Homo sapiens: one gene and its partner. The protein of the gene in region 2 purifies or fractionates together with the protein of the main gene of each other region. This does not show direct contact. Each region holds a gene or a part of one and is shown on either strand. Other genes may lie near its edges.

Region 1 (3,997 bases), on a different chromosome or scaffold from region 2:
TGACAGCTAGGTGCTGGAGAGGGGCCCTCATCTGGTTGTCCTGTATCCTAACATCAGCCCATTGCGACTTAAGGAATGTTTGGAGAAGTTTTGTAGGGCACACTACCAGGGCAGACAGCTCGAAACTGCTGGGAGTGGGCGAGGTGGGGGTTGTGAAATGTATTTGACCTGCTGCTTCTCTACCAACCCCTCCAGCTATTTCTTGCAAGAGCTACAACGGTGTCTGAAAGATCCTGATTGGCTGGCTCAGCTATTCATCAAACACGTGAGGCTTGAGGGGGCAGGGCCTGGGGCGGGGCTTAGGAATGGGCTGGGATTCTCTGGAGATGCGTCCTCCCTCCTTGCCCACCCTGCTCTCTCTTAAACATTACCCCTGTTAGGAGCGCCGGCTGCATATGTATGTGGTGTACTGTCAGAATAAGCCCAAGTCAGAGCATGTGGTGTCAGAGTTTGGGGACAGCTACTTTGAGGTCAGTAGCTGAGATGTCTTGGTGGGAAGGAGGACAGAACTGGGGCTTTCCAGGCTGCATAACCACCCTGTCCCTGTCCCCAGGAGCTCCGGCAGCAGCTGGGGCACCGCCTGCAGCTGAACGACCTCCTCATCAAACCTGTGCAGCGGATCATGAAATACCAGCTGCTGCTCAAGGTCAGGACCCCCTTTTTCCTGGGGGCACAGCTGGCTGGCACAGCTGTTTCCTCATTCATCTCCCCAGGGTTCTTAGGGCTCCCCCAGACTTCCTGAGGGCCCTCACTGGTGTCCTCAGGGGAGGATGTGAGAGCTTCTAAGGGTGTCCTCGTGACCTCCCTGAGCATTTCTTCTCTCTGTCTTAGGATTTTCTCAAGTATTACAATAGAGCTGGGATGGATACTGCAGACCTAGAGGTGAGGACCCCAGATCTTCCAGGACACACCATGTGCTCCTTATCCTCCTAGTATCTCATGGGTTCCCCCAGCCCCTTGGGTGGTTTACAGCTGTCTGGTTTTTAGGGGGAGGCTGGTTGGGGTTGAGATACCGTCTGAAGAGGCAACTGGCCGAGGAGGCCTCTTTCCCAATAATGACTCTCTTCGCCCAACAATGCGCCTCCCTCACCTGTGTCCCAGCAAGCTGTGGAGGTCATGTGCTTTGTGCCCAAGCGCTGCAACGATATGATGACGCTGGGGAGATTGCGGGGATTTGAGGTACGGAGATAGGGCAAGAAACTGGAGGCCCGATGCTCTTCTGCCCCAGCCCTAGCATTCAGGAGGTCCTTATGGGGAGTTGTCTTCTCCTGGGGCTGACCCCATGGTTGGTTGGGCATGTCAGGCGAGGAAGGGAGGAGCAGAGAATTGTCCTTTTTCTTGTTCTTTTTCCAAGGCCACTATCCTTTTGGTTTCAGGGCAAACTGACTGCTCAGGGGAAGCTCTTGGGCCAGGACACTTTCTGGGTCACCGAGCCTGAGGCTGGAGGGCTGCTGTCTTCCCGAGGTCGAGAGAGGCGCGTCTTCCTCTTTGAGCAAATCATCATCTTCAGTGAAGCCCTGGGAGGAGGAGTGAGAGGTGGAACACAGCCTGGATATGTATACAAGAACAGCATTAAGGTGGGGAGAAGGCCACGAGGGAGGGCTTGGAGAGAGAGAGGGCATGAGGCCTCTGAGAGGATGTCTCAGAGGAGCCAGGGAGGGCCTGAGGAATCTGGGGGCTGTCTCCTATCTGCCAATTCAGGTGAGCTGCCTGGGACTGGAGGGGAACCTCCAAGGTGACCCTTGCCGCTTTGCACTGACCTCCAGAGGGCCAGAGGGTGGGATCCAGCGCTATGTCCTGCAGGCTGCAGACCCTGCTATCAGTCAGGCCTGGATCAAGCATGTGGCTCAGATCTTGGAGAGCCAACGGGACTTCCTCAACGGTGAAGCTCTCATCCTTTCTTCCCGATGTGCTCTCTCAGCCCCTTAACCTCCTGAATCCCTCACTGCCCAGTCTCCAGTACCTACCCTCTGACCATGGCCCATCCCCTTTTCCACTGCTAGCTCAAAATTTGATAGAATCCCCTAAAGCCCTAAGCAATTGACATTGGCTGACAGGGAGGGAGGGCAAAGTGGGAGAATGATACAGGCCCTAGGGAGCAGACCTGTCTCTGCGGTAACCCTCCTTCTGTTCCTCTCTTTGCTCCAGCATTGCAGTCACCCATTGAGTACCAGAGACGGGAGAGCCAGACCAACAGCCTGGGGCGGCCAAGAGGGCCTGGAGTGGGGAGCCCTGGAAGAATTCAGCTTGGAGATCAGGCCCAGGGCAGCACACACACACCCATCAATGGCTCTCTCCCCTCTCTGCTGCTGTCACCCAAAGGGGAGGTGGCCAGAGCCCTCTTGCCACTGGATAAACAGGTATGACGAATAGAGCTCCCTCATTGTAGGGATAAAAAGGGGAGAGCCTCTCTTGTTCTGGGACCCCAAGTTCCCTCCCCATATCATTCCTTCCTTTTATCTGGTCCTTCCTACTTCCCATCCCTTACGCTTCTCCCCTCTATTTTAACTCTGGAGAAGCTGATAGTCTCAGACAGTCTAAGATATCTAGCAAGAGGAGGTGGCTTGGCTAGGGACTTAAACTGAAAAGAGAGAAGTGAGGGTAGATTTCTGGCCTTTTTGATCCTCTGACTTGAATCTTTTCTTCAGGCCCTTGGTGACATCCCCCAGGCTCCCCATGACTCTCCTCCAGTCTCTCCAACTCCAAAAACCCCTCCCTGCCAAGCCAGACTTGCCAAGCTGGATGAAGATGAGCTGTAACTGGTGAAAACCATGGGGGTGGTGCTGACTCAGCCGCCTATTCCCCAAGGAGCTTCAGGGCAGTCCTTCTGGCACTGCTCCAGAATTCCTCCTTCTTGGTGTGTCTGGAGGGTGGGCAAGGCTGGGAGGGATATCAACTTGGAGGAGAACACCTAGACCCAAGGACTTTTTTCTGCCCAAGGAACACAGTTTCCTTCAGCTCCCATCCCTATGCATGCATCATGGTCCCCCCAAAAGGAGGATATGTGGGTGGGTGGGAGGGCTGGGGCAGGGGCCAGATAGAAATTATTGGTTTTGTTTTTTAATTTTGTTTTTCCTGTTTTCTGAGAATAAAGGTTTTGTTATATCACCGAGGCTGCTGTCTTGGCAGAGGGAAGGGGAGGCTGTAGTGGGGGTAGGTGGGGTGAAGTGATATGGAAGAGATCGGTTGGCCCCAGCCATTGGAGGAGGGGGTCTGGTGAAAGGAGAAGGGGACAGGGTGTAAGATAAAAGATGTTGCTATCTTTGTCCCTCAACTGCAGTTGCAGCAGTTGAGGGACAAAGACTGAGGCATGGAACCACTGGAAAGCCCTTAGATTCTTCTTCTTCCCTTTTTTTTTTTGTAGAGTTAGGGTCTCACTATGTAGCCCAGGGTCTTGAACTCCTGGGCTCAAGTGATCCACCAGTCTTGCCCTCCCAAAGTGCTGGGATTGCAGCCATGAGCCGTTGCATCTGGCCAGCCCTAGATTCTTGATGTATCCTCTTTACCCAGCCCTTCTTTTTCCCTACCCACCCTCTGGTCTAGACCCCACCAGAAAGCCCAATGCAGTGTGACTTCTCACCATTCCCCCAACACCCAGATACGAAAGCACAAAATGCCAATGTACCTTTCCTTCTGAGGCTACCATGTTCAGCTGAGGGAGGATGGGAAGGTGGAGAGGATCCTGGGGGCTGAGACCTTTTCCTGGCTCTGGGTCTCCTTATCTTTGCTCTCTGCGAGGTCATAAGCCATGTTCATAGTGAGCAGAAGGGGATTCTTCTTCAAGCCATGGACCCAAGAGCGGACAGCCCAAGGGGATCTTCACCCCTCCCAACTTCTGGGAGAGCCGCTGGAACAGAGCGAGCCAAACATTCACACAGCCATGTCCAGATGCCCTGTCCTGGGTCCTTAATGCATCTCCGAGTCCACTGTATCCATTCGTCCCTTGGGCTCAGTCACGTGCACTTGGGCTTCCTCAACAGACAATAGACTGCTGGGG
Region 2 (7,686 bases):
CTTTTACATTGGAATAAAGATCAGAGCCTGCAGTGTAGTCAGTGATGAATGATGGAATTTGAGATACCCGCCAGGAGATCCTTGGTGAATACAGCCTTGTTTGTCAGAAAGGCTGTCTACACACACACACTCACATCAGCCCATCCACCTCCACCTCTCCACCCGCAGTGAGTCCCCTGTGGTGCACCCACTAGGAGCCTAGAAGCCAGGTTTCCTTGGTTTTTTTAACTGCCCATGAGGCACAGGGGAGAGCTGTCTTCAGCTGGCTCCTGGGACCAGGCCCTGCTCTGCCCTCCCTACCTGCCACCTTCCTCAACTCCATCTCTCCTGACCCCAGGGTGATGGAAACATCCGGTACTACGAGATCAGCACTGAGAAGCCCTACCTGAGTTACCTCATGGAGTTCCGCTCCCCAGCCCCGCAGAAAGGCCTAGGTAAGTGGCCCCGAGGCTGCCACAGCTGGTGTGCTCATGGCACGGGAGGACATCTGGCCCATGGGTCACCCCCTCCCTTAAGTGGAAAATCAGACTCAGAAGGCCATAGCACATGGGCAAGTTGGAACAGAACCTGCAAGAGCTGGCCCTGCTGCAGCTGTCACTGCCCACTGGACCGGCGCTGTCACCCCACTGTGCTCACATCCACCATCAGCGGCAGCTTGCCAGCATGTGCTCTGCGTCTGCACTCCTGATCGCAGATGGGGAGCCTGAAGCCCACAGTGGCTATGATGATGGTGGGAAGTGGTCCCGTAACTAGAGGTCAGAGTGGGGTCTAGGCACAAGTCCCTTCCTGAGCCTCTAGGAAGCCGTGACTCCCAGATCCCAGCAGCAGCTCTGTCTGCCTGATAGGGCAGGAAGAAGTTCCAGGTGTTCCCGTGACTGCAGCCCCAAGCTCCCTAGGCTCTCAGGCAGAAACCCAGAGAGGGCTCTGGGATTGACAGGGTGTAGTGAGTGAGACCCCACATTCTCCCACCACTAAAAGTCTTACAACCAATTTTCCTTCCTTTCAACTAACCTGGTAATGCATATGATTCAGCAATTCTATATTTCGGGTCCAAATCACCCAATGAAACACCTATTTTCAGGGACCTCCCGTTCCCACCTCTGCGGGTGATCCTCTTTGGAGCTTGAGTCTAGCTTGCTTTCCCTGTGGGTCTGGTATTATGGACAGGGCCTGAGGGCCAGCTTCAGGAACATCGGGGCTGAAAGGGCCTGAGAGCCCACTCCAGTGACCAACAGCAAAATGGAAACCAAAAGATGTCCGAAGTCCTAATCACCATTCCATCAACTTTACTCTTCCCCAACTCTGTCATCCCCACCTCCTTCACTGTCACTCCTGCATCAAATAGTATAAAAATCAGCCTGGACTTTGGAGTCAGACCTGGGTTTACATTCTGGCTCAGCTGTGCACTTAATCCCTCTAAGTCTCAGTTTCCTCATCTGTAAAATGTGGATAATCAAACCTTCCTTGAATGGCTAATGTAAGGCTTAGAGACCACATGTGCAAGGCACCTGGCAGAGCACTTGACTCCTCCTGCTCCTTCACATAGTTGTTCAACAAACAGTTATTGACCTCCAGCTGTGTACCAGACCCTGCGCGAAGTCCAGTGGCAAATAAAACAGAACATGGCCTTACTCTCATGGAGATCACATTCCACTGAGCAGGAGACAGGCAATAAACAAATAAGAAAAATATTGGATGGGAATGAGTTCTAGGCAGAGAGTCAAATGGTGTGCTAGAACAGAAAGTGACTGGGGGCTACTTCACCCCGGTGGTCAGGGAAGGCCTCTCTGTGATGATGGTATTTTAAGTTGAGCTCTGAAAGATGGGAAGGAGAAAGAGCAGTCCCAGCAGGGGGAATGGTTAGTGCAAAGCCTCTGTGGCCAGAATGAGCCTGGCATGTTCTAGGAGCAGAAGGGAGGTCAGTGTGGCTGAGCGTGGTGTAGACTCTGTGATGTAGCAGGAGATGGGGGGAGGATGTTAGGAGACCATCGGAGAGGGGGGCAGGGGCTAAATCCATGGGATGCATTAGCCTGGGAAAGGAGTTTGCATTTGATAAGGAAATCATTATGGGGAGGGTTCTTTTTCTTGAGTGGGACATGAGACAACATGATGGGATCCGAAATGTTAGTTAAGATTGCTCTGGCAGCCAGGTGTGGTGGCTCAAGCCTGTAATCCTAGCAGTTTGGGAGGCCGAGGCAGGTGGATCACCTGAGGTCAGGAGTTCGAGACCAGTCTGGCCAATATGGTGAAACCCTGTCTCTAAACCCTGTCACCAAAAATACAAAAAGTACCTGGGTGTGGTGATACACCCCTGTAATCCCAGCTACTTGGGAGGCTAAGGCAGGAGAATCGCTTGAACCCGGGAGGCAGAGGTTGCGGTGAGCTAAGATCACACCACTGCACTCCAACCTGGGCAACAGAGCCAGACTCTGTCAAAAAAAAAAAAAAAGATTTCTCTGGCTTCAGTAGAGAGAATGGATTTGGGAGGGGCAGGAGGAAGACAGGGAAACCAGTTAGGAAGAAGTTGCAGACTTTTAGGCAAGAGAGAATAATAGGTGGGGAGAAGGAAGACGGGGAGAACAGTGTGAATCCAGATGTTTAGAAAGTAATGTCAGCAGGACTTGCTAAGGTATCGGATATGGAGGGGTGGAGAGGAAAGAAGCAGGAAGGGCTCAGAATGACTCACTTCATCCTCATCCTCATCCTCCTCACCTGTGACCACTATTGAGCATTTGCTGTGATGTAGGCACTTCTTGTAGACTCAGAAAAGTTAAGCAACTCACCTGAGGCAGGTCTTATCTGCTAAGTAGCAGAAGAAGAACTCAGACCGAATCTGCTGGCTCTTAATCCCATTTGGGAAACCATTTCACCCCTTACCTCCAGCTCCTGGAATTCCTTTATGTGGAAGAGCAGGCTTCCAGCCCAGAGGAGGAGAGGCAGAGCCTTAACTCATATTCACAATACAGGGAAAGAAATGAATGTGGTCTGTGCTCGTCACGGTGCCAGGCAGTTAATGAGTATCTTGGAACATATTCTGCTGATCACCTCAGGTAGGGCCATTGTTGTCCTCCTCGAACCAGCCAAGGAACTGGAAGCTCAGAGAGTTGTAACTTGCCAAAGGACTCCTAGATGGAAAGGGGGCAGAGTGAGGACTCAAACCCCGTTGGTCCACCCCTAGATAGAGCTGTGCTCCTAGCACCACCACACTGCCCCTCATCCCCATGATAGACGTTCAGCAGAGGCAGCTGTTAGGGACATGTGGTAAGTGAACCCACACAGGAAACATGGGCACACATTGTTGGTTCTAGGAGACATAGAACAGAACAGCAATCTTAGGCTGCGTCCAGACCTCTAGGGTGTATGGGGAATGGCCTCTCCCTCCTTTCTCTCTCAGGACTGGAGACACAGGAGGCTTAGGGATGACTGTTCATTTCAGAGGGTAATGGGCTCTGTGGCCCTGCCCCTGCTGTGCTCTGTGACCTTGGGTAACCCCTTGCCCTCTGACCCTCTCTGGACCCTCATCTAGAAAAGGAGTGGGCTAGATTCAAATGTTTCTGCAGTTTCTTCCAATTCTAAAGGGTCCAATTCTAAAGCACGCACTGTGGTGAGGCAGGTCTGGCCCAAGGAGCTTGAGAAGTGACCACCCAGAGACAGAGACTGATTGAAGGCGCCCCGGTCTACCCCCTGCCCTCTGCATGGGCCGTTGCCTCCAAACCTAAGTACATTCCTCAGCCTTTCCCCTGGCCCAGAACATCATGGGGTGATGTCACTGAGACGCAGTTTCTGGGACCCCATGGAGCCACATGTGTGCCTGTTACAGGGGTCATGCCCAAGCACGGGCTGGATGTGTCAGCCTGCGAGGTGTTCCGCTTCTACAAGCTGGTGACTCTCAAGGGCCTGATCGAGCCCATCTCCATGATCGTGCCCCGGAGGGTAAGTGGGGCTGGGCTGGGCTCCAGGAGGGGGGCCTGCATCGCCTCTTAGCCTGCTCACCACTGACCATGACCCTGGAGAAACCCAGGTGAGAGATGTGCTGTGAACTGGGGTCTTCAAACCTAATTTGGGGTGAGGGGCATTCTCAGATGGGGACAGTTGGGTTTGCTCATGAGTGCAGTCAGGTAGTTCCAGGAGGGAGACACAGTGCAAAGGCATAGAGGCAGGAGAGCAGGTAGAGTGACTGGAGATCAGTAAGAAGAGTCTGACTGAAGAGTAGGGGCTTTCCCAGCAGCCCCCCATGTGTCCTCTCTTCTGCTCCTCCCACTGTAGTCAGATTCCTACCAGGAAGACATTTACCCAATGACACCAGGCACGGAGCCAGCACTGACCCCGGATGAATGGCTGGGAGGCATCAACCGAGGTACCACAGCGGGGGGCTCCACAGAGCACAGGCGGCTGCAGCCTTTGCCTTCAGCGCAGCTCACCCCAGTTCTCCTTGTCTGTCCCCCTGTTTGAACTTCCCTCCCACCCAGCCTGCTGGACCATCACCTGACAGTCCATGGGATCGTCAGTGAGAGCGTTTCCCTTGCCTTCTTTAGATCCCGTGCTGATGTCTTTGAAAGAAGGCTATAAGAAGTCCTCAAAAATGGTATTTAAGGCTCCCATCAAAGAAAAGAAGAGTGTTGTGGTCAACGGAATAGATTTATTAGAAAATGTCCCACCCAGGACAGAGAATGAGGTAAGGAATGTAAGTTATTACCTCCACAGGCCCTGGAAGAGCAAGACCTTTACATTTCAATTATGGGCTTCAGGCCTTTAAGCCAGTTCCATTCTGAGACATTTTTCTTTCTGTGACAAATGCCATAAGTAGCCTGATATTGGCTTCTGATGCTTCTGACCCCAATAAATAGAAGCTGGGATGTCTGGAGATATCGGTTCCCCACACCACCCCCACGCCTCAAATTCACTAACCCACAGTTATGCATCTCCTCATGAACTCATTTCAGAACGTTGCTGTCATTTGGAGTTCCAGGAGTTATAAATTCCTGACTAACAGGGGCAAGCCCGGCCTCGTGTATCACAGCCCTGCCTCCCTCGCTGGCGTTGCAGCAGTGCTGGAGTCTGACACTTCCAGTCTTTGTGGAAGAGACTGGGTGTTTATGAAGGTGCTCTCTGTACCACTTGGAATGGGAGCAAGCTCTTTTGGGGCAGCTCGGCTGGGCCTTGTCCATGTCCCCCAGCGGTATTTCGTTCCAGCCCACACCCCCATTCCCTGATGCCAACATGGTTTAGCTCAGCTGGGATTCACAGGATGCCTACTGTGTGCCAGACATAAGGCCTGATACAACTGAAATGGAGATGGCTGCATGACCCCACCTGCATTTGAATCCTGGCTCTGCCATTTCCTGGCTGTGACTGAGCAAGTCTACTGACCTTTATAAGTCCATTTCCTTGTGGTAAAATAGGGATATGGAAAGCTGTGAGCATTAAAGAGATAATTCATAAGTGTCTAGCACTCTTCCTGGCTCATATTAAGTGCTCAGAGAAAAAGGTCACCTGTATTAGCTACCTACTGCTGTGTAACAAATTACCCTAGAACTTAATGGCCTAAACCCACAAATGCTTATTAGCTCACAGTTTCTTTGCATGCCCGTGGCTGAAGGTCTCTCATGAGGGTACAGTTACACTGTCCACTGGGGCTGGAATCACATCTGAAGGCTCAACTTCCAAGTTCACTCATGTGGTTGCTGCTAGGACTCATGTCCTCAGGGGCTATTGGAGTGAGGGCCTCAGTTTCTCCTTGGGCTGTTGGCCAGAGCTTCCCTCAGGTCCCTGCCACGTGGACTCCTCCATAAGGCAGCTCACAACAGGGTATGTGAGCAGAAGAGCAAGAGAGGGCACCCAAGATGGAAGCTACAGTCTTTCTGTCACCTAATCTTGGAAATGGTATCCCACCACTTCTGCCCTATTCTGTTCATTTGAAGCAAGCTATTAGGGCCAGCCCATGCTTGAGGAGAGGGGATAAAATGGGAGCCATCTTAAACTAGACAGTCTATACCACCAACTTATGCTATCACTATTTTTTGTTTTGAGACAGAGTCTCACTCTGTTGCCCAGCCTGGAGCTCAGTGGCACAATCTCAGCTCACTGCAACCTATGCAGGTTCAAGCGATTGTCCTGCCCTAGCCTCCCAAGTAGCTGGGATTACAGGTGTGCACCACCACACCCAGCTAATTTTTGTATTTTTGGTAGAGACAGGGTTTCACCATGTTTGCCAGGCTGGTCTTGAACTCCTGACCTTAGGTGATCCACCTGCCTCGGCCTCCCAAAGTGCTGGGATTACAGATGTGAGCCACCACACCTGGCCCACTAATCACTATTATTAATAAAAATAAGACCCTTCTTGACCTCTGGGACCTCACAGTCTTAAGGGGGAGATTGGCAGGTAACTTGATAATTGCCATAAAATATGCTTGTATGCCATTGTAGAGGGATATTCAGGGCTAGATGAAATGATGTGATAAATGGGATTTGCTTTAAAATAACCCCTGAGGAAAGTGGTGCAGTGTAGGTGGGTGGCAGTAGAGGCGAAGTAAGAATGGTCATACGGGCTGGGCGCCGTAGCTCATGCCTGTAATCCCAGCACGTTGAGAGGCCAAGGCGGGTGGATCACCTGAGGTCAGGAGTTTGAGACCAGCCTGGTCAACATGGTGAAACCCTGTCTCTACTAAAAATACAAAAATTAGCCAGGCGTGGTGGTGCGCGCCTGTAATCCCAGCTGCTCAAGTGGCTGAGGCAGGAGAATCACTTGAACCCAGGAGGCAGAGACTAAAGCTGAGTGATGGGTACTTGGGGGTTCATGGTGCTATACTTTCTATTAATATAGATATATAACATTTTTCATTTAAAAAATTTTTAAGTGTTTTCTTGTATTTATTTATTTATGTTTTAGAGACAGAGTCCTGCCCTGTCTCCCAGACTGCAGTGCTGTGGCACGATCATAGCTCACTATAACCTCAATCTCCGAGGCTCAAGCAATAATCCCACCTTAGACTTCTGAGTAGCTGGAACTAGCGGCGTGTACCACCATACCCAACTAATTTGTTTTTAAACATTTTTGTAGAGACAGGGTCTTACTATATTGCACAGGCTGGTCTTAAACTCCTGGGCTCAAACAGTCCTCCCACTTTCGCCTCCCAATGTGCTGGGATTACAGTCATGAGACACTGCGCCCAGCTATTTTCTTGTTTTTAAAAGAACTCTACTCTTTGAAGATAGAGACACAGGGGTCATTGTGATAGCCCAGGAGGGCAATAACAAGGGCCTGAGCTCAGTTCTGGCACTGGGTCTGGAGAAGGCAGGGTTGAATAGTAGTTAAATCAAGCAATATTTCGCTGTAGACTTGCCTATGGAATCAGAATTGAGAACCTGGAGGAAAAGCTTAAAGGGTCTCAGAGCAGACAAAACAGATGCCACAATCTACACCAAAGTTGTGCATCTTCCTCGCTGGGAAGAAGCTTTCTCAAAGCCTGCTGACTCTGCCTTTATCCACAGTTTTAATCATCGTAGCAGTTCGGAAGCAGCCAGTTAGAAAGTGGGGCTGTCAAAGGTGGACGCATTGATCTAAGTGTGAGGAAACAACTGACAGCTTGATGCGAGGGAAAAGTCCTACGATTGTACAACTCAGGAACTTTACTAAAAATCGCTGAATTGTAAGCTTAAAATGAGTGACTTTTATGGTGTGTGAAT

What was found. The genes of interacting proteins can lie anywhere in the genome.
Region 1: the proteins of CORO2B (region 2) and ARHGEF25 purify together in Homo sapiens (affinity purification with mass spectrometry; 2 studies listed by BioGRID and IntAct, with this or other methods). This does not show direct contact.

What each region holds. Positions count from the first base shown.
Region 1 is NC_000012.12:57,614,136-57,618,132, forward strand, and holds the end of ARHGEF25 (rho guanine nucleotide exchange factor 25), read left to right. Parts: intron 1-195; coding exon 196-265; intron 266-380; coding exon 381-470; intron 471-553; coding exon 554-646; intron 647-831; coding exon 832-882; intron 883-1,101; coding exon 1,102-1,179; intron 1,180-1,376; coding exon 1,377-1,577; intron 1,578-1,701; coding exon 1,702-1,882; intron 1,883-2,148; coding exon 2,149-2,360; intron 2,361-2,648; coding exon 2,649-2,759; 3' UTR 2,760-3,110; downstream 3,111-3,997. UniProt on the Homo sapiens protein: May play a role in actin cytoskeleton reorganization in different tissues since its activation induces formation of actin stress fibers. It works as a guanine nucleotide exchange factor for Rho family of small GTPases.
Region 2 is NC_000015.10:68,714,878-68,722,563, forward strand, and holds part of CORO2B (coronin-2B), read left to right. Parts: intron 1-337; coding exon 338-434; intron 435-3,820; coding exon 3,821-3,933; intron 3,934-4,266; coding exon 4,267-4,357; intron 4,358-4,535; coding exon 4,536-4,675; intron 4,676-7,686. UniProt on the Homo sapiens protein: May play a role in the reorganization of neuronal actin structure.